Linked DNA regions of Homo sapiens. The protein of the gene in region 1 binds, or shares a complex with, the protein of each later gene. Each region holds a gene or a part of one and is shown on either strand. Other genes may lie near its edges.

Region 1 (7,112 bases):
TCAGAGAGATGACAAGCATGTGGTCCTGGTTAAATTAAATCTAAAGCTTGGATTAGCAAAGATCCAGAAAATTCTGACCCCCTAAGCACCACTTTAGGAATACCGCCAGAATCAATGAGTGGGATCTAGGGATCTGTTTGGCCTAACATTTGTTTTTTTTAGAATTAAAAAAACAAAACAAAAACTGAAAGGATCTGTTAAATACTTTGTCAACCTGGCATCCCTGACACTGACATGAAGATCCAGTTGGATGATGGATATTGCCAATTAAAAAGTTTGTAGTGGCAAAAGTAAAAATGATTCAAATTGACGAATGACCTGTCCTTTGTTTTTAAACACAGATACGTTTTTCTGGGCCTTTCTCTAAAATGAACTTTAGGGCTTGATACATTTCACAAAAATATACATATTTTTCGTCAGCTACTACTTTGTATACAACCTGAATCCCAGTGTCCAACACTTAAAAGTACTGCAATTATATAAATTACTAAACAAGTTAACAGTAATGGAGAGGCAACTTCTGAGTAAATAAAATGAATGATTATGTACTTAATAGCCTTGTAGTCACTTTCAAAGAATAAAGTAATCTAAATAAAATTATACTTAGCACTCTTTTTCATGTAAGTTCAATAATTATTTGGCTATTGGTTGAAAACATCACACAGACAGACACCAACCAAAGATTCATTATCTCCACTCGCTAAAAACATTGATGGTTAATTTTAAGCAATTCTTTCAAAGAAAAACAAAATTAATTCTAAGCCTTTCAGTCTGATTTGTGACATCTTAATACAATATAACTTAAATGACAAAGCCTGAGAAAAGCACCAACATAGATTTTTTTTTAATTGCATCCAACCATCATTTCAGATGTCATAAAGATTTGCTTCAGTTAAAATGGCAGCAATGACAAAGAGGTAGATATGAGAGATGCTTTTTAAATATTTTAAGACTATTCTTAGGTGGAATTTTAACTAGTTCAGGTATTTAACCTAAAAATATTTACTAGTTGAATCTTTACCACATAAGAACTTCATGACATGCTGTTTTGTAAGAGGGAAATATATGAAGTATTAAAAAGTGAGCCTTTAAAAAATTACATTTACTTAGCCAACATTAATGAGATCCCATAATTTTGGTGAACAAATAATTTCTCCTTCTACCTGAACTTTACTATAATTAAAGAATAGCTATTGTTTTCTCTACTGAAATTTCTAGGAATTCACATTCAAAATTCTTGGAAAGTATATATGGTGCTCAGAAGAGCACAAAGCGCATGAAATGTCCCCTGAAGTCCTAGAAGTTGAGCAGATACATTAAAAAGACATTGATGGTCACAAATCAGGACCTTCACAGATTGGTAAACACACACACACACACACACACGCATGCATGCACACACACACACACACACACACACACACACACACACTAACTCTCTCTCTCTCTCTGTGCCCCCCCTCCCACCCCCTCCCCAAACTCAATCTTCATCCTCACTGTAAGGCTGCATTTTTTTTTTTAAAGGCACCTCTCATTTTCTAGCTATTGCCTTCTTGATGATATTTGTTTTTGTTAAAAAGTCTGAATGTTCAATGGAAATAGTTCAGTACTGAGAATAAAATATTTTTCAATTCACATTTGAATAGCCAGGTTTTCTTACATTCAGATTTTAATACACTAGAATGACAGTCTTTAAAACAAGCATGCTAGCCTATAATGAATATTGTATATACAGTAATTTAAACACTTAGAACTATATATTATACTGCAAAAGCAAACAGCACAACACTCATCATACTCATCATTATCTGCTGTGTATACTACCTCCAAAAATGAAAATACAAAACAGTAAAATGCACCTATGGTTTATATATATATATATATATATATATATATATATATATATATAGTTTATATATTATATATATTCTTACAATATATATAATATATATTTATAAAATATACATACATTTTAGACATTTTCAAATAAATCTTCATCATTATCTCCAAAAGAAATTTATAGCAAGAATACTGAAGGAATGAAAGTCAGATTAAAAAAAAAATTTCTCACAAAGTTCATCATCAGTGATGCAGCTCAATTTCCCCCGTTTTAGTCATAACTAAAATGATTATAAAAGCGAAATATTTTGCATAACTAAGTATTTGTTTAATGGCAAAAGTTGTTAAACTTGTTCAATAGAAAAATACTGAAGGTCATTATATCACTTTTGTTAAATAATCTGTCTATGGTTTGAGTAGCAAATGAGCTCCATATGACAGTTGAGTTTTGAGAAGGGTGCTGCAAGCTCCCAGAGATGTATCCACAGCATATGAAAATAAGGCAGGGATCCAAACCTCCCGCTAATTTTCATACTATTCCAATACATTTCAAACAAAATATTTACAAATGAAGCACTATGAAAGCATTTCAATGGCTGTTTAAACATTGAATTTGTTCATTCTGTGAATTTTCATTGAATGTTCAACAGGCTAGGGGAAAAGTCAGACACATGTATATGCTACTCTGGTTGGAAGACAGCTTTGGCTCATTTCTAGGCTGAGATCATGCAGTGCTGGTAGAGAAGACTCTCTCCGTAGTCTCCAATGCCACAGCACTGGCTTTCTAAGGAACTTTCAACAGTTCCATTTGCGCTACAGTCTATGTATCTCATGGTTATTTTCCACTCACTGACAGAAAAATTTCAACCATGAAGCATAAAATGAACGGGGGAAGAATGTCCTGGTTTTTAGAATTTCAGTGACATTAATAAAGCAGTAACTGAAGATCTTAGAAGGTAATTAATAACTGGTAGAACAATAGCTTTGTGGTCATCCATCATAAATACACCAAGTAATGGCATCTTCCTTCCTTCCTTCCTGGAAGGAATTTTCCAGTATCCTTCTACAAATGTTAGGTTAGAAACATTCTTTCTTCACTGTGAAGAACCAAAAGAAATTTACTGAACACAATATGGAATTCTGTATCTGCATGGAAATATTAAGTATTCACCTGACAGCTCATGTTTAGGTCAATTCATTTAATTACACAAAGCAGTCTCTTGAGCCTGCTTGTTAACCAAAGCACAAAGATGAAATGAAAAGGTAGCTGTATTACTACAGCATATCTGTATGAAAATCAGGCAAATTTAGCACAAGTCTCTAGCTTTAAAGAAAATTTGCCTGTATAATGCAGAATTCTAGAGGCAAACAGGCAGAAATTTTACAGAAATATTTGTCAATCATTAGCCACACCACCACCAGAATACTTTTTCAAGGAGTAGATGTACGTATCATGAGAAGCATCATTGTTATGACGATGGAAAATGTGGGGAATGGAATATGTAGAAATTGTTTTAATTGGTTAAAATATCTATAGATTTAATATTTTTAAAATCTAAGAGCCTATTTATATGTTTTTTGGTGGAAAGTTGGACGTTAATAATTTATTTCCAATTTCTAGATTGGTCTCTGTCATTTGGGACAAAGAGTAAGAGAGACATAAACCACTATAGAAATAATGTCTTTATGACAGGAGACTAGGTCTAGATAGCAGGGTCTTCAGAATCCCAAAAGGTGAACACATGTAGGTGGGTCACAGGTAAGTTGGGCTGGGGAAGCCTGGCCTTTTAAGGTGTGGATTTCCCCAGAAACAATACTGATCCACTGCCCATTAAAACATGTATATCTCAATTAAACAATGGGGGAGGAATAGGGAGAGAGAAAGACAGAACTTTTTAGCCAATATTTGGCATTAAACTCTTTCATCCAGGTTTCCAGGAGATTCTTACAGGGATTAATAGAGGACTTCTAGGGTACAAAATATTTGTTTTTATTAGTGCTTCTGCAAAAGCAGCTGCGTGAAGTTAACCATACTCTTTGGGCTATTAATAATTATGAACTGTTCTTGGTAGATGTCAGATAACTTGAACGTGACAAAGAAGAAAGAGCACAGATCATCTGAAGCATGATTAGGTGGGTGTTGATAAATGATTATTAGCAAATAAATTCTATCTTTTCAGTCACTGAAAAGTAAGATTTCATTGGTATGAAATAATCACTCTGGTACTATAAATGTCACATGAATAAAGTGAATTTTAAAATAGAAATTATTAAAGAGATATGCCCTGTTTACCCTTAAAAATAAACAGAATTTCAAACCTGAATAAGTTAAATCTGTTAGTAAAAGCAGAGTCGATCAACTATTCTTCACAATGGTGAGTGCTTGATAGCTAAACTTTAGAATGATACCAAATCTGTTTTCAAAACTGTAATACAATATAGAAATCTGCTTGCAAACTATTTGTCTAGCATTTCTGAATAATAATATATTTAACATATTATTGCATTTTTCTCCCCCTAACAGGTAAAATGCTTTGCCAGGTGCTTTATGTGAACAGCTGAAAGGAGAGTCAAATTAAAAACTCAGTTTAACACTGCCTGGTCATTATACACAAAGGGGTTAATATGGCAGATATGATAAAGATTACTATTTTGACTACTTAATGTGTTTTAACAAGATTTCTCAGGGGAGAACTTGGTCTAAGTTTCCCGTTTTCTTCTATTCAGTCCCAGCTATCAAGCTTTTAAATTATCCATTGTAGCATGCCCTACTTACTCAACAGGGACAAGCTAAACTTGTATTCGCTCAGGCCTGCCTAGCGAATTAGAACCACCTCAGAAATAAAGGCGCCTATTGGGGAGAAATTTGAAACAGACCTCAGGCTCACAGATTCAGCTGAGCTTGCAGCAACCTGAACAAACCTTAGTTTTAGAAAACAGTATATGAATTGCAAAACTATACTTCAACAAATGTTCTCTGTGCTCCTTCAGCAGAACAAAAGGGCAGGACGAGATGATTCTTGCCCTCGTCTTCTGTATCTCTTGTGTGCAGTTGATTACTTATAAACAGCTAGAAGGTGAAGATGATGCATTGCGTCATACAAAGACTTTAGCCAGTGCGTCAGCTCCAGCACTGGCTATATAGCATTTGGATGGGTGGAAAGCTACATCATGAATCGATTCTTCAAACTTTTTTCGATGAGCTGTGAATTCTTGGATACACGTCTTACTTTCTAGATTCCATAAACGTATTGAACAGTCATGACCTATATCCAAAAAAAAAATTAAAAGGAAAAATTACATTAACATGAAAATGGTAAGGACAAATAAATAATCCATAGTTGAGGTACTTACTGCCAGACATCAAGTAAAGGCCATTGGGATCAACTGCTAAACTTGTAACAGCTTCTAGGTGGGCTACCATCGAGTGGATCAGTTTGCCTTTGGAAAAAGAGATTGTTACTCCTTATTAATGCCTTTCCTCATCTTCAATATTTGCCAGCTACCATGTCCTGCTGGTTTCTCCAGTCATCCCTCTCTGTGTGCTTACTGTATTAATAGCTTTTTCCATCACCTAAAACAACATGTCTCCCTCTTGCCTCTAGTCATGGCAATGATATGGAAAACCAAAAAAAGCTCAAATTTTAGATTACACTTTTGTCTTTTAAGCCACGATATGGAAGTCAGTAATTTCTACACGCAACCCTTAAGCCACGTTTGTTAATTAGAACTTAGACATTATTAATCACCTACTTTGCATTCTTTAGCTACTGGCAAATTATGAGTTGTGGAAACACAGAATTCAAATTCACAGAGAGAAAACAATGAGGCAAGGAAAAAGGGACAGAAAGAAAACATGGCCACAATTTTGGTGGATACAACATACAGAAAAAAATTTTAAATATTAAATGATTCATCACCAGCAGCTAAACAAAGTCAGCAGAAGTCAACATATTAACAAGGCAGATACTTAGGTAAATATGGCAGCTAATATAGGGTGCTTTCCTCCCAGCACAGTGCTTCCTAAATTTCCTTTATACTGGTGAAATGTAATAAAATAAAACTTGGGCAAATCTCCATGCACAATTCAAATCAATGAGGACCAACCAGTCAGTTTTATAATACAGAAAAGATTAGTCTATGGAAAAACGAATACAATGACCTGGAGGTTTTCCATCCGCAACACTAAAAAAGGCTATTTGGTAATGGAATAATTGAATATTGAATAATGCTATTCAATAACTGAACAACTTTAAACAAAATATAATGACCATATGCCTCTATTTCCAATGTTTCTACTTTTCCCCAATATATAATACTACAATAGATCATAGCAACAGATCATTTTTATTTGTATTTGAGTGAACTTTTCCTGGTGTCCCTAGTGATAACCTTGGCTCTAAAGCCTACATATAGCATCTGCTCACTATTAAATAAACCAAAATGATTCTGTATTGTATAATAAAGACTAGTCTTAGCAGATTTGGATAGAGTGAAGAGAAACTGAGACGGGAGAGTATTTGGGGTTCAGTGCCTATTCCCTGACTACGAAACCACCAAGAGACACCAAAATTAGCCTACTTGTGGTAGGGATTTTTTTTTTTTGCTTTAATAAAAATCAATTCTTAATAAATTCTTACCTGTATTGTTATCATAGAATTTGATGTGCCTGTCTTCATGAGCAGTGATGCTGATCGGAAGAGTAGGATGACTGATGACTCTATTTATTTGGCAGGAAGAGTTGGCTGCTAAAAAGAAAAAATTAAAAAGCAACACAACTTAGTCAAAGATATTTTTCACACAAAGGAGAACTGAATTATCTATCTAAGAGACTGAAAAAGTAGGCCGGCCGCGGTGGCTCACGCCTGTAATCCAAGCACGTTGGGAGGCCAAGGTGGGTGGATCACGAGGTCAGGAGATCGAGACCATCCTGGCCAACATGGTGAAACCCTGTCTCTATTAAAAATACAAAAATTAGCCGAGTGTGGTGGTGCGTGCCTGTAGTTCCAGCTACTCAGGAGGCTGAGGCAGGAAAATCACTTGAACCCGGGAGATGGAAGTTGCAGTGAGCCGAGATCGTGCCACTGCATTCCAGCCTAGGTGTCAGAGCGAGACTCCATTTCAAAAAAAGAAAAGAAAAAAGAAAAAGAAAAAGTAATAATGTGACTTTCATTATTTGTCTTTAGTTCATTTATTCTGTGACTGTTTTCAAAATTTCAATGTTAGGAAAGAGAATTGCCTGATAAATCTGGAAATATTTATAAATTACAATT
Region 2 (7,112 bases), on another chromosome or scaffold:
AAACCTACCTGACCTTTGGGGCCCAGGGCAGGCCCTTGGGAAAAGCCACCCGCTCAGCAGAGAGGGGTGCCTGTGAGGGTGGAGGTGGCACCAGAGGGTCCTGCTCTAGCAGGTCTAGCTCTCCATCCAAGGTTCGTTCTCCATCACCAGCAGACTCCTCTTCCTCCTCTGTGGCGGGCTCCTCAGTCTTGAAGAGATCCCTTTCATTGTAGATGTCCAGGCTGTCCTGCTTAGTGAGGAGTTGCTGGAGGGGAAAGAAGGGAGGGTAGGCATGCAGAGATCTCACTCTGGGCATCCTTGTCTGAGGCCACCCCATATCCACAGGCCTCCACATTTCAGGGAACATGGAATCTGAACACAGCCCTTGCGAAAACATCCAATTCCCCACCTTAACCTACTGTCCCCACCCGGCCCAATAACAGGACAAGAAGTTCTCAGGTAACCCTGCCATTAGCCAGGGAACATAGCATAGATAATCCCAAAGTCACAATTACTTAGCTTTCAGAAAGCAGTGATGCCTTTTTTTGCCAGCACTTTCCTTCCTAATTATGCTCTGCTTAGGTGAACATTCAATTAGTTTGCCTTCTGTGAGCATACACCAGCTGGCTGACTGAGGAAGAGGAGGACAGAAGCTTGCTGCTAGGCAGAGGGAAGCAAGTTTGGAATTTTAAATCTTGTGACAAAGAAAAAAAGATTGGACAGAAATAGGCCAAAAAGTTAACAGTGACTGTCTCTGGTTGTTAAGATTGTGGGTGATTTTTCTTTTCTCCCTTCATCACATTTTTATATTTGTTCCAAATTTTCTACAATGAGTAAGCATTACTTTATAAAACAAAAATAAAGTTAAAAAATTTTATTGCAGATAATGGAGACTGGATTACTGAGCACTACTATCTAGCCCTGTTGATAAACTGAAGTGGGTCAGGCAGGGGAGTTTGTAAGAACATAGTCAGATCTCAGTATAACTTTTCATTCTGACCTTTTCAGGACAGCAGACTATAGTCATGTGCTGCACAACGATGCTTCAGTCAACAATGGACTGCATATGTAATTGTGGACCCATAAGATTATAATACTGTATTTTTATTGGCCTTTTCTAGGTTGAGATACACAAACACCATTGGGTTACAATTGCATATGGTGTTCGGTATAGTAACCTGCTGTACAGGTTTGTAGTCTAGGAACAATAGGCTATATGCCTAGGTGTGCAGTAGGCTATACCATCTGGGTTTGTGTAAGTACACTCTATGATGTTTGCTCAGTGACAAAATTGCATAATGACACATTTTTCAGATTGTATCCCTGTCGTTTAGTGTCACATGGTTATATACATAGACCCCTACCCAGTCATCTCTTAAATGTAAGCCTTTGGTTCCAGGGCCAGTTAAGAGTGTGGCTGGCTGACAGTAAAACTTCCTGGTGCTTCAAAATAGTAAAATGCCTTACCCCAGAAAAATGGATTTGCTTGGAGACCTGTTCCGGTATCCTGGGTCCCTATCCCCAGGATTATACCCTTAATTGTTATTCAGAATGTAAGGAACTCCAGGCACTGAGGTCCAGGCCAATGATTCTGTAGCAAGACATGGCTATATATGACATGATATCACAGTGTCACATCACAACAGCGCAGGGGGCTGTCAGGGCTGGGGGACAGAGGCCAAACTAGAGACCCTAAGATTTCAGGTTGGTCATAGGGCCAACCTGGGCAGGATGAGCCGGGTCATTTACTGCTTTTTCCTACCACACCCAGAGTAACTTAGAATCTTGATTTTTGGCCAGTCGGTGTCCCAATACCATTGTCTGCTTCAGTCCATACCCTTCGAGAGCCACGGCGGCCTCGCAGCTTGGAGGGTGGGGGTGCCAGCTGAGACTCTCCCAGGTCAAGAGTGTAAGAGGGCGGGGAGGCAGCACGCATGCTCTTCACCACCTGGATACTGTCTTCAGCCAGTGGAGGCAGGCCCAATTCTGCCCGCTTCTGTACTTTGAGAGTCTGCAGATGCTCAAATCCACCGAGGGTAAACTAAGGAAGAAACAGGAAAGGGGCAGAGAGAGAGGAAGGAAGGGAAGTAAGAGAGAGCCAAGGTCAGGGAAACATGGATGAAAAGAAAGGGCCACAACCTCCAGTCCCTTCAGACCTTTTCCTTAATAAGGAGGTAGTAAAACATAAAGAGGCAAATATGATTACCATCCCCACGGCAACTGAGGAGCTCAGGGGTCAGGATAAGGCATTATTTACTGCCCCAGTATGGGAAATATCACAGAATTTAGGAAAGGAATTCCTGCGGGCCTCCTCAAAAAAAAAAAAAAAGAAAAAAAAGAAACTATCGACTTTTTTAAGGAACACCATCCAGGTGCTATAAACCCCCAGAGTCACTCAATTTCCTCTGCAGTCAAGAGGCAGTTCCCCCTATTAGGCCTGCCTTGTGAGATGGGAGCCAAAAATGAAGGATCAGGTTGAATAACTAGTAACAGAAATGTAACCACATATTTATAAGAACTTCATTATTTTTTAAAAAGCAAATCCTGGCCAGGCACAATGGCTCATGCCTGTAATCCCAACATTTTGGGAAGCCAAGGTGAAAGGATTGCTTGAGACCAGGAGTTCAAGACCAGCCCAGGCAACACAGGGAGGCCTGTCTGTAAGAAAAAATTATTTTTATTAAAAAAAAAATACAAAACCTCTGTTTATCTGGAGGGAGGGCAGGCACTCACCCCAACCTTTTACAGCTAGAGAAATTGAGGCACAGAGAGTTGCCCAAAGTTTCTCAGTATCAGCAAAGCCCAGATCTACCAACTTTCAACCAGTGTTCTCTCCATCAAACATTGGCTTTAATAAGAGAAGGTACCACTGACATCCCCAATTTATGGAGTGGCATCTCCCATCCATCCAATAGAAACATGAAACCCATTCTAACATAGAACATCTGATGTCTCTAGGACAGCCTTGTTGCCCCTCCATATTAGCAGTTGGCTAAGGGCTGCCTGTTCTGCTCCCTGGATCCAGCCTCCTGGAATGAGACTAGAAGAAACTGAGGTGGCATAGGGCATTGCTGATCTGATAATGTGGGAGTGGGGAGAATTACTCACCATGACCACCTTCCAGAGCAGGAGCAGGACCTTCTTTATGGGGAAGTGAGGAGCCAGGCCACTGCAGAACTTGGTAACCATGGAGAAGAGTAAAAGGGCAAAAGGCTCCTCATTATGCATGGAGAAGCCTAGGGGTGAGGAGAGAGGGGAGTGAGAAAGTGAGGATGAGGCAGCTAAAACCTTTTTCATGTAACCCTGATTCTGGACACACACAGGAAGGCACTCACCTCCCCTGAAGAATACCAGAGTACTTGGTCCTGAGAAGGAGGCTTAGCCCCCAGAAGGAAGCCCCTCAAGGGCAGGAAGGGACGCCATGGAATTAAAATGGCATAGGCCCCAGAGCTTAGGGTGACGCTTTGGGGTTGGATGCCAAACTAGAAGTAACAATAATGAAGACATTGCTTTCTGGCTAAAGGACTCAATGTCATTCACTTTTCCACATCAATAAATATATTTTTAAAATCCCATAGTCCTTCATATCCTATCCCTGTCAGATGACAACACCAACTTACATTTGAACAGAACTCAGTTTTCAAGGTGATTCAACTCATTTTTTCATGTGGGACTCGTGATAGAGTGGGAGAGGAATGGCTATCCCCACTTATAACCAAGGAAACCAAGGCATAGAGAAGTTACATGGCTGGTCTTAGCTCATAGATACAGGGCGGCAATCAAGCCCAGCCCTTGTGCCTGCCATGCAGTATCTGTGTCCTAAAAGAAAGGACATTAATTTTAAAAAAGAAAACAAAAGAAAAAACGACTGTCTGCCTCTCCTAGGCAGATGCTCTGCTTCCCCTCTCCCATTAGCACCCCATCCACACCTTCCTCAAGTGCCATTTCTTACTTAATTCAGTGCGGAAGGTCTCCCGGGCTGTTCTCCACCCACAGGGGTCTGTCTCTCGCTCCAGGCGAATATTTTCCACCATTAGGTACATAACACTCAGCAGCACCCTGGGGTTACAGAAGAGTCACAAGAGGTTCCCAAGGCAATTCCCAGCCCATAGTCACAGACCTCAGAGATGGTCTCTGTGGGAAGCCCAACCCAGTGAGATTAGCTACAGGGCAACTTCCTAATGGTCTGAGTCATCTGGGATTTGGGGAAAAGGTAACCCAGGTGCTAATCATCTGCCCTGTTCCAAGCCCATAGTTAGCCCCACTCACCTGAGCTCTGTGCTATCAGCTATGGAGACAGCTGGTTTCCGAAGGGCACTGCTACAGGCCTGGCTGTTGCTGCCAGGGGAGGAGAAAAAGAACAGGAATGCATAAGACTTCTTTTCTCTCTGTGCTCTTACTTATCACTCACACAAATATGAGTGCTTGCCATTCCCTGGCTAGGCAGCCACTAATGAAACTGGTCTAGAGTAAAGGAGCTGACAGAATTCCCCTGCCACCTCAGCAAACTCTCATCTATGGTGAAGACAAGGCAAGGGCAGGATCTGTGGTATCCACTCCTCTTGCATTCCCCACTATGCTTAGAACTGTGCTGGACATAAAACAGATGCTAAGAAACACCTGATGAATAATAAGCAGATTGCACCCTATCTCAAACTCCTGGGTGATGGGCATGAGACAAAACAAGGGGTCACTGTAGTGGTAGCAGCAAATAAGGCCACCTCTAGAACTATAGCCCATGAGGGAAAGAATTGGGCACAATGACAGGAATTGATTTCCTGTCTTTCTTGGGTCATGCATTCAAAATAGTTTCCCTCTTGAATTCCAGAGTTAGGCTGAGCTAAGAAAGTCCTTGAATAAAAAGAGAACCCACTCAGGATAGGCCCCTGAAGCCCAGGATTAAAGCTGTAAGTGAGGCAGAAGCTGCAGATGTATCCAACCTCAGGGAGGGAGAACAGAATATCAGAGAACATGGCTGGATGGAGGGGAACTGTCAATGAGCTTTGGGCTGAGGTGTGAGTAGACCCAGTTCCTCACAGGGGGTCTCTATAGTGAGGGAAGCAGCATAGAACATGAGGCCCCTTTAAGGAATGGGGGTTATGTAGGCCAGCCCTTCCCCTAAGGCTTCTCACTCAATTTCCATGTGGAGTAGCTCCAGGAAGGTGGAGAAGGTCCCCATCTGATACAGCAGGAAGCAGTTGTACCTGGACCAGTGTAGCACATCGACCTCTGAATCACATTCCCCAAAAGTACCTAAAGGACCAGACAGTTGTTACAGGGGTTGAGGGGTGGCAGTATCCCAGTTCTTTCCACCCTGCCCCATGATCTTAAGATTTTCCTATAATACTCTGCCTAATAATTAGGCTGACATAGGTATGACAGGGGCCCCAAGAACTTCCTGGAATGAGTCAGGGGAGAGGAGAGGTAGTCTCCAGGGTTAGGTCCAATGTGCTCATCAATGGCCTATCGTCTTAAGGGTGAGTTCTCCCAGAAGCAGATCCTGAGGTAAGTAAGGATTCCAGTGCAAGTAGCTTATTTGGGAATCATTCCCAGGAATCATCAGTAGAGATAGGGAAGAAAAGGAAGCCCAAAGAGTTCACTCAGGGGATAATTTGGAAACAGTATAAAACACACAACTCACAGTTATTCTATCCAAGAGGGGTGAGACAGTCAGGCTATCCATCCACTAACTCCTGTTAGTCATTGGATGAGGGTGCTAAACTAAAGGAGCACACTGATTCCCTACACTTCCTGGATGCCCTGTATGGGCTGCAGAGAAGGCCCTTGAGCAGAAGCTGAGCATGGTGGCACATGCCTATAATCCTAGCTACTTAGGAGGCTGGAGCAGGAGGATAGCTCGAGCCTATGAGTTCAAGACCAGCCAGGGAAACACAGTGAGACTTTCTTTTAAAAAACTTAGATAAATAAAGTCCTTGGGCAAACATATGAAGGTACTGGCAGTTGGAAGTTGGCCAGAGCACCAGACCCAAGAGATACAGGAGGGCACAGTCCTATTTGCTAGTCTTCTCTTCACCTAATGTCCACCCTTTCCCCTCTTCATTTATTATTTTTTTATTTTACAATTTTTTTTTTAGCTCCCAACTGGTTGGTTCTGTTAACACGCCTTATATTTATGATCGTAGGCTTATTTTCACTCCAGCTAGGCTATCTCATTTCCCTTTCCAACACCTGGCTAACAGGTTTCTTCTGAGCAGCTTTCCCCAATTACTCTATTTAGTTCTGATCATCTCCAAATTACTCACAGCATCCACTCCCGCAGTTATGTTGGCTTGAACTTTCAAAATGCCAATGAGAAACAATGCAAGGGGTCCATGTGTATCTGTGACACTCTCCTATTTCTCCTCAGTTTTGGGGCCAGGCCACAGTTGATGTCTTGTCTCCATGATCAGCTGGTGGTACATATCAGCTCTGGCCACACCTCTTGCTAGTATTCACATATGATTATAGTACAGGGTAGGGAAAAGAAGAACCCTATAAAAAATTCTGACATACCTGGTAAGATAAAGGCAGATCCCGAGGGATCTAGAACAGCACTCAACACTATCTCATCTTCCTCATAAGCACAGGTTACTCCTAGCACATGACAAGATCTGTCCTTGAGAGGCAAGAAACCTTGCTTTCCCAGCACAGCCTGCGTCATCTCAGTCCTGATAATGCCCACTTCCCTCTCAAGCCTCCACCCCTCTAAAGCTAGCAAGGGTGGTCACTCACCTTGGGCCAGGTAGAGAACAGCCCGGGCCACCTTCAGCCGCCGTTCCCTACTGACCACCTCTAGCCGGTCCAAGAGTCCCATTATATAGGCCTTTTGGGCATCTTCTTCCAACTCCAGCCATTCCTTGCCCTGCACTGGGAATAAAAGGCCATATACATCCAGTGTCAGCTATTGCCACCCTTCCTGGAAAGGCTCCTCATAGCATATCCACCTCTGATCTCAGCTCCCCTGCCAAAATTATTTTCTCCAAAAGCTTTCCTTATTTCACTGAGAAAGAATAAGGTATGGGAAAAGGACCCAAAATGTTCTGGCCTGAACCCAGTCTATAGCCTCACCTTCAACATCCCCTCTGTCCTCCACACACAGCCCATACTGTCCTGTCTTTCTGCCTTTCCTCAAG
Region 3 (7,112 bases), on another chromosome or scaffold:
TGGTTCTTACAATGGTGGATAGGTTAAAAATTGTTTCTTCTGCCACAAGTTTGTTTCTAACAAGTACTATACTCTATCATATGAATTCAGAGAGCTTCCCATTCACCTGACATTTAAAAGAAAAAGATCTTATAAAACATGCCTGCCTATTTTGCAGTTCTGCATGAATGAAAGCACCTGTTTTCCAAGTTAAAAACAATGTGTGCCTTTTTGTTTGTACTAATTCAAAACAGAAACTTGCCAACTGTCTGTCAGTAAAACGTGTTCATAGAAAGCTTGAAATGTGACTTTACAAAGTAGTATATACCATTAAGCATTAAAATTACAACTACTCAATTTCTAGATCTGAAAATAAGGAATCCTTATTTGTTCTGGAAATCAGTGGTGGTGAGGGCTGCACAACACGCCTGTAATCCTGGTATTTTGGGAGGCCGAGGTGGGAGGATCGCTTGAGTCCAGGAGTCTGAGAGCAGTCTAGGCAACATAGGGAGTCCTCATCTCTACAAAAAGTGCAAAAAAGTAGCCAGGTGTGGTGGCATATGCCTGTAGTCCCAGCTACTCGGGAGGCTGAGGTGGGAGGATCAATTGAACCTGGGAGGTGGAGGCTGCAGTGGGCCAAGACTGCGCCACTGTACTCCAGCTCGGGAGACAGAGTGAGACCCTGTCACAAAAAAAAAGCAAAACAAAAAAACAAAACAAAAAAAAAACCACCCAAAAAACAAACAAACAAAAAAAACACAAAATCAATGTGAATGTAGCCAATGCCAGAGAGCTGTACACTTAAAATGGCAAATTTAGTGTTAAGTATATTTTGCCTGATTAAAAAAAACATACAGCACATAAGACTTTATAAAACTGGAAGTGACAGTAGAGATCATCTTGCCAAGAATATGGCTAGAAAATTTACCACTTCTGAGTCATTTTCCTCCAGCTTGGAATGCTGTGTCCCTACCCCACTTGCACCTTCCAACCCCTATCAAAATCATTCTCAAGACTTAGTTCAAATGCTACCTCCCTAGTTTGAGGGTTATTGCACTTGATGTACTCACAGATAAGCAGGCTATTAATATGAAGCAAGTTATAAACACATATCTGGGGCTGAGCAGAGAGGATGAAACCAGAGACATCAGTTTAGAAGTTGTCAGACGAAAGTAGATGAGATTAACCACAATATGCAAAAGAAGAGGAATACACATAGTAGGCATTAATAAATAAGCGTCTGTTGAATTGAATCTAACATGGGGCTTCTTAGAGGTGTATTATATTAAGTTTAAAGCTATTCCTATTTTGAGAAAAGAACATTTTAAGAAGGAACAAACTTTCTAGCCTCCATTTTCTTCAAGTTTTATAAGAGAACTCCAAAACAAATGTTAACAATAAAAGAATATTCCAGAGGCATTGAGCATACATAAACTGGCTGTAAGCACATACAGTTTCAGTGAAAAATAAGGAGAAGGCCACAAAGCCGTACAGATGATTCTGAAATATTTTACTTCATTCAATTCTTTTTTTTTTCATAAATACTGGTGATGGTGGGTGGGAGGCAATATTTCCTTAACATACACAGAAATCTAAAGGCAATTTTCAGCAGCAAATAAAGGCATGATTCAAATTCTATTCAATGCCTGAGTGTCATTTTAAGATTTACACTGAACTAGAAAAATATTTAAAGATTATAAAAGATTATTCCAATATTATGAGATCAGAAGGGAAGGGTTTGCTTATTTTAGCACTCTTCATAAAGACTAACTTTGTCAAGAAAATCTGCCCAGTGAACTAAAATTAAAGGAAAACACTGTGGTCATACTGATGTGTTTGTCTGGTTTTTAACTCTTGTTTTCAAAAATGAAGTTATACAGTGAGCTTAGTCAAAATGAATACCTAGTACATTTTTTGCATGTCTCAAGGAAATCACTACAACTGCATACAGTTTCAAAGAACATATAATTTTCTCTCAAATGTAATAAACTTTTCCTCCAGCTTACAGTGAGGTCTTAGTTATGGATGACATCCTGTGTAAGAACAACCCATTTCCCAGTTTGCTCAATTAACTTGACTCACAAAATCCTCCATGTCACCTGAAATGGAACAATGGGCCACAATAAGTATGTAAGTTGACTGATAACACAGTTCCCTGATGGCACAAAGAGGATGTGGCCTTGACTTATGTTGACTACATGAAACAGAATCCTGTTATATTTGACGTGATTTTAGTTTAGAAAAAAATACAAACCCACACAGTCATACTATGTTGTAATATAAATGGAAAATAAATGAGTTGGTCAATTTAAGAAAGTGATTTAAATACATGGTATGAAAACGTTGTAAGATTATAGAATATTTCTTTCTCTGTGTGTATATACATATGTCTCAAGACATATGTATATACACACAGATTTATTTACTTTAAATAGATTCAGAACACAAATAATCAACATAAGCCAGCTGCACATTTCTACAATTTTATCATGAAGCAACATGTTCTTCAAAGTAGTGTTTTATATCATAGAGTTTAGTTAATGATGGGTGAAGGAGATAAAAATAATTTGATTTAATCCCTTAAGAAGCTATCTTGGACGATGGTTTTGTAGCACTGGCTGGTCTGAGTACACTTTACAATCAAAATTTGGGACAAACAAAAAACTAGTTTTTAATTATTTAAAGATTAAGTAAATACTGGGTGACTAGTACATGTATACTACTGTGCAACTTAAAAAACACTCTATATGAAATCTTAGGAAAAGAAGATAGAGCTGTCACTCATTTTCCATGGGAGTATTGAATATGAATAAATAAGCAACCAATAAAATTGTCAAACCATATCAGTACCAATTTTCAATATATTATGGAATAGCCATTTTAAATAGGGCGTATTTAATATTTTAGGTCAGCAACCAAAAATAGTGTTTTTGTCACAGGTGCCTAAAAGTAGCAAGGATTCAGTTTTGCCCTAGAGTGAGTCTGGAAATACCGGGATTCAGTCCAGAAAGAGTAAACCAGAATGAGCAAATGATACACACACAGACACACACACACACACACACACATACACACACACGCACACACACACATGTACCACCAAGGAATTGTATGGGAATTAGGAGGAGAACCTAAAACTACTGAGACTGCGTAATCACTCATGAGATCTCTAAAAAAGAATATGATGGGCTGAATTAGCTTTTTAGGAACAAATATGACAGCAAAATTATCACACAAAGGAGCAAATAATTATGTATGTAGTAAAATACAGTAATAGCTAACACTTAGATGTAAATGCTGAAATTGGATAGAAATTACTAGCATTATCACCTCCTTTTGGAGGCCTTTTATTCATGCCACTCCTGAAAAGGACAGAAGTGACTACTTACTAATTTGTGCATCATCTATACCTTGTACATACTTTAACCATAAAATTGGCATCATTTCAGTGCAAAACTGGACTGTGAGTGCCTTGACAGCAGTAGTGAGTTTGTTCACTTTTATATCTTCAGCACCTAATACAGTGTGTAATATATAGTGGCTGTTTGGCTGCTTAATGATTCATTCTACTATGCATTCATACCACATACATCCAATATTAGAATAAGTCGGGTTTTGTAAACAGGCAGTGAAATTTGTGATAAATTTCTATATCAGTATTAACCAATATAGATACAGATAGATGGAAAGCGATGACAAAGTCACCAAGACGGCAGAGGAGATACCAGTTTTAATCATCCCCTCCCTCCACATATACATAAAAAGCCCCCAAATATAGACAGCTATCCACAAACCCAAGTAACTCTGGAAGGATTCAAGGGCCTATTTAACAATCTGCAGCAACACAGTGGAGCAAAAAAGAAAGAATAACTCCACAGGAAGGATCACTGAGGAGATCAGCATACCTGAGAGGCCAGGAAATGTCTAGGAACAAAGATGAAAGGTGGAGGCTATTGGTATCACTACACAGTAGAAGCCATCATGGTCCCCAGTGGCCTGCTCTGCAGAGGACACTGGCATCTCTTGCTACTGAGGTAGTCAACAGCCATTTCTGCCAGGGAACCCCAAGAGGAATACATGACTACAAAACTCTCTCATCTCAAGAAGAAGACATTGTTGAGCCACATGGAGAAAGAAGCCACCACTCTGAAAACTGATGCAGCTCCAGACCTCTGAGTCATGGCCACTCCACTAGTGCCCACACTCCAGACCCAGATTCTGCGTCTTCACTGAGCTCAACCATACCTCAGACATTGGAGCCACTGCCACAGTGAGCTAGCTCACACCCCAGGGCCCCGGAGCCAAGGTTTCTCTGAGTGTGCCTATGCTCCAGACATCCACACAGTCACCACTGAAAGCTAGCCTGTGTTCTGGACTCCAGACCAGCTGAGTGGTTGCACTGGACCCACCCACAGCTCAGACACTTGAGCTAATCACTGCCATAGTGAGCTAGCTCACATCCCAGGCTCTGGAGACAAGGTCCCTCTGAGCGTGCCTATGCTCCAGACATCAGCTCAGATGTTACAAATAGCTAGGCCCTACGCCACCCTCAGAGCCACTGTAGCTCTGTGCAGCAGTAGGGGGTATTTGTACCTAGGACGTTGGTATTACTATTGGCTTGGGCCCCAGAGCATGTCCCTCCAGATATGCCTATGCTTGAAGCCTTAGTTCTGTGGCCACTCCATGGGCATCACTCATTAGACACTAGTGCCACCTCAAGTGGGCCCACAAGCAGACCCAATGCCAAAAGGGATCTACTCGGCTATGATTTCTCTGGTGGAAGAAAAAGAGACTGGGGGGACCCTAGCAGCTCTTGCCACCAAAGACCTCAAACAGCCCTCACCACTGTTGTAGACAACCAAGGTATTGACCACTGAGGATCCCTGCAATCTTTGTCAACACTAATCTCAAGTGACAAAGCTGCACAGGAACTATACTCCTATGCCCTCATTGGAGCCAGAACCACTGCAACCCACCCAGCCATTGCTCTCACACTGTCCTACAGAGGAAGAAGGTCTTTTCACACTGAAACCTGTAATGTCTGGAAGAGGCGATTGCTCTATCAACTGCAGAGACATCAACATAAGGCAATAATAAACATGAAAAACCAAGGAGACATCTCACCACCAAAAGAACACAGTAGTTTCCCAGTAGCTGACTCCAAATAAATGGAGATTTATAAACTGCCTGACAAATAATTTAAAATAATTGTGTCAAGGAAGCTCAGCAAACTTCGAGAAAATACAAAGAAACAAGTGAAATCAGGAAAACAATAAATGAACAAAATGATAAATTTAACAAGTAGATTAAATCATTTTAAAAACTCAGAAATTTCAAAGCTGAAAAATACAATGAATGAAATGAAACAATACAATAAAGTGTCAATAGCAGAACTGATCAAACAGAAGAAAGAATCTGTGAACTTGAAGACAGGTTATTTCGTAAAGGTATAGATGGATATCCGAAGTTTTATTTGGTCAGCAGAGGATAAAATGATAGCATTAATTTTTACGCAGGCCAACAGCTTAATTAGTTATAGATACGCTCTTTTTGGCCTATAGATCAACCAGTAACAACAAACACTTCCCTCCTTTTAAACCCTGAATGGCAAAGATCTAGCACAGCCTTCATTTGAAAAACTGCAATACAAGGATAAACAATTTTAATTTTAAAATGATTCAAACTCCAAACTAAGCTAGAGTTCATGGGGGCTTTTCTTCAACTATTTATTATTCACATTTCAACAGACACGAATCCTGACTTCTAACTCTGGAACCCAAGGACCACTGGGTTTTACCAACCAGTTTTCTGCTATGTAGTAACACCTCCATCTGCTGGAACTTCAGGTGTCTGCTAATCCCATGATCCTGGAACCAGTAAAAATCCAACTTTTATTTGGAGGGGGAGGCAGATGTTATTCCACTTAATTCCATTTTAACAAATATTTACCACATGCTTAAGATGTACCATACCCTGTGCTAAGGAATGTAAGTACCAGGACTGGTTAAGCTAAACTCCCTGCTATGAAGGAGCTCACAACCTGGTGGGGGAGAGAAATGTGTAAATAACTACCATAACTCAATGAAATAAGTGACATACTTACATGTTCCATCAGCTCTGAGGTTGAGACAGTTAAGACCATTGAGAATAGTGTCTGGAAACCCAGGGGGATAGCTCTTTCCTGACAAAGGAGATGTCTCCAGGACCAGCTGCATTTCTGCTCCTCCATCAAACCAAAAGTTCAGGTGTGGAAAAGGGGTGCAGCTGAGTACTGGGATGCATTCAGAATACAGCTGCTAAATCTAACAACGGTTTATTTGGCACTATAAATGGAGCTGGATTCTGCCTGGAAGCCATAGACTGCCAAATCCTAATTTAAGACATTGCCTTTCAAAAAAATAGAATTAAAAAACTTCTAATGAAAATACCTTATGACTTAAATAATACAGCACACACATTACCTTTAAATATGACCCATAGTATTTTGTTACATATGAGCTGTCACATTGACTCAAGACAGTTATTTCTTGCTGAATGTCTTCTATTTCATCTTCGGCTTCCTCAAGGTCTATGATTTTAATAGCAACGACTTGCTGGGTACGGTTATCAATTCCTTTGAAAACTTCCCCAAATGAGCCTTTCCCAATGCGCTCTAATTTTGTGAACAGTTCTTCTGGATCAGCTATGTTATTCTGAAGGGAGTGGGGAACGAGAAAAAGAAAGAACACAAATGTTTTGAATCAAATTTTTTTAATGAAGGAAAATAAATCACATAAGACAATAACACATTTTTGTAAAAGCATACAAACTCCTCTGACTCCCCACATGTGCTTTGTTAGAACAACTGTAATCCCAAACAGGCAGCTAGTCCATATTCTAGTGAATCATACACACTAACTGAGCTTAGCTGATCCTGCTATCACAAACATTCTCACACAGCAAATATATCCAGTGCATGCCAAAACATCAGGCACTTTTTGGAATAAAGCCGCTGATTATACACAGTTTACACATTAATGCAAATGTAGCAATAGTGGGAGAATATCTAACCTAAGCTAAGGTGAACTGTTTAAGTTTCTAACATTCTGCCAATATTACCTTTTAACACTCCTCTCTCTCCAACTCGGATATCC

The links.
Region 2: STRN (region 1) and STRIP2 share a complex: the UniProt entries of both Homo sapiens proteins name them as parts of the core of STRIPAK complex.
Region 3: STRN (region 1) and STK26 share a complex: the UniProt entries of both Homo sapiens proteins name them as parts of the core of STRIPAK complex.

What each region holds. Positions count from the first base shown.
Region 1 is NC_000002.12:36,844,521-36,851,632, forward strand, and holds part of STRN (striatin), read right to left. Parts: intron 6,588-7,112; coding exon 6,480-6,587; intron 5,281-6,479; coding exon 5,194-5,280; intron 5,106-5,193; coding exon 4,936-5,105; 3' UTR 1-4,935. UniProt on the Homo sapiens protein: Calmodulin-binding scaffolding protein which is the center of the striatin-interacting phosphatase and kinase (STRIPAK) complexes.
Region 2 is NC_000007.14:129,451,347-129,458,458, reverse strand, and holds part of STRIP2 (striatin-interacting protein 2), read right to left. Parts: intron 6,847-7,112; coding exon 6,712-6,846; intron 6,340-6,711; exon of another isoform or gene 6,243-6,339; intron 5,233-6,242; coding exon 5,112-5,232; intron 4,318-5,111; coding exon 4,249-4,317; intron 4,039-4,248; coding exon 3,932-4,038; intron 3,216-3,931; coding exon 3,088-3,215; intron 2,021-3,087; coding exon 1,817-2,020; intron 1,760-1,816; exon of another isoform or gene 1,447-1,759; intron 637-1,446; exon of another isoform or gene 377-636; coding exon of another isoform or gene 245-376; coding exon 9-244; intron 1-8. UniProt on the Homo sapiens protein: Plays a role in the regulation of cell morphology and cytoskeletal organization. Required in the control of cell shape. Calmodulin-binding scaffolding protein which is the center of the striatin-interacting phosphatase and kinase (STRIPAK) complexes.
Region 3 is NC_000023.11:132,054,190-132,061,301, reverse strand, and holds part of STK26 (serine/threonine-protein kinase 26), read right to left. Parts: intron 6,672-7,112; coding exon 6,441-6,671; intron 1-6,440. UniProt on the Homo sapiens protein: Serine/threonine-protein kinase that acts as a mediator of cell growth. Modulates apoptosis. In association with STK24 negatively regulates Golgi reorientation in polarized cell migration upon RHO activation.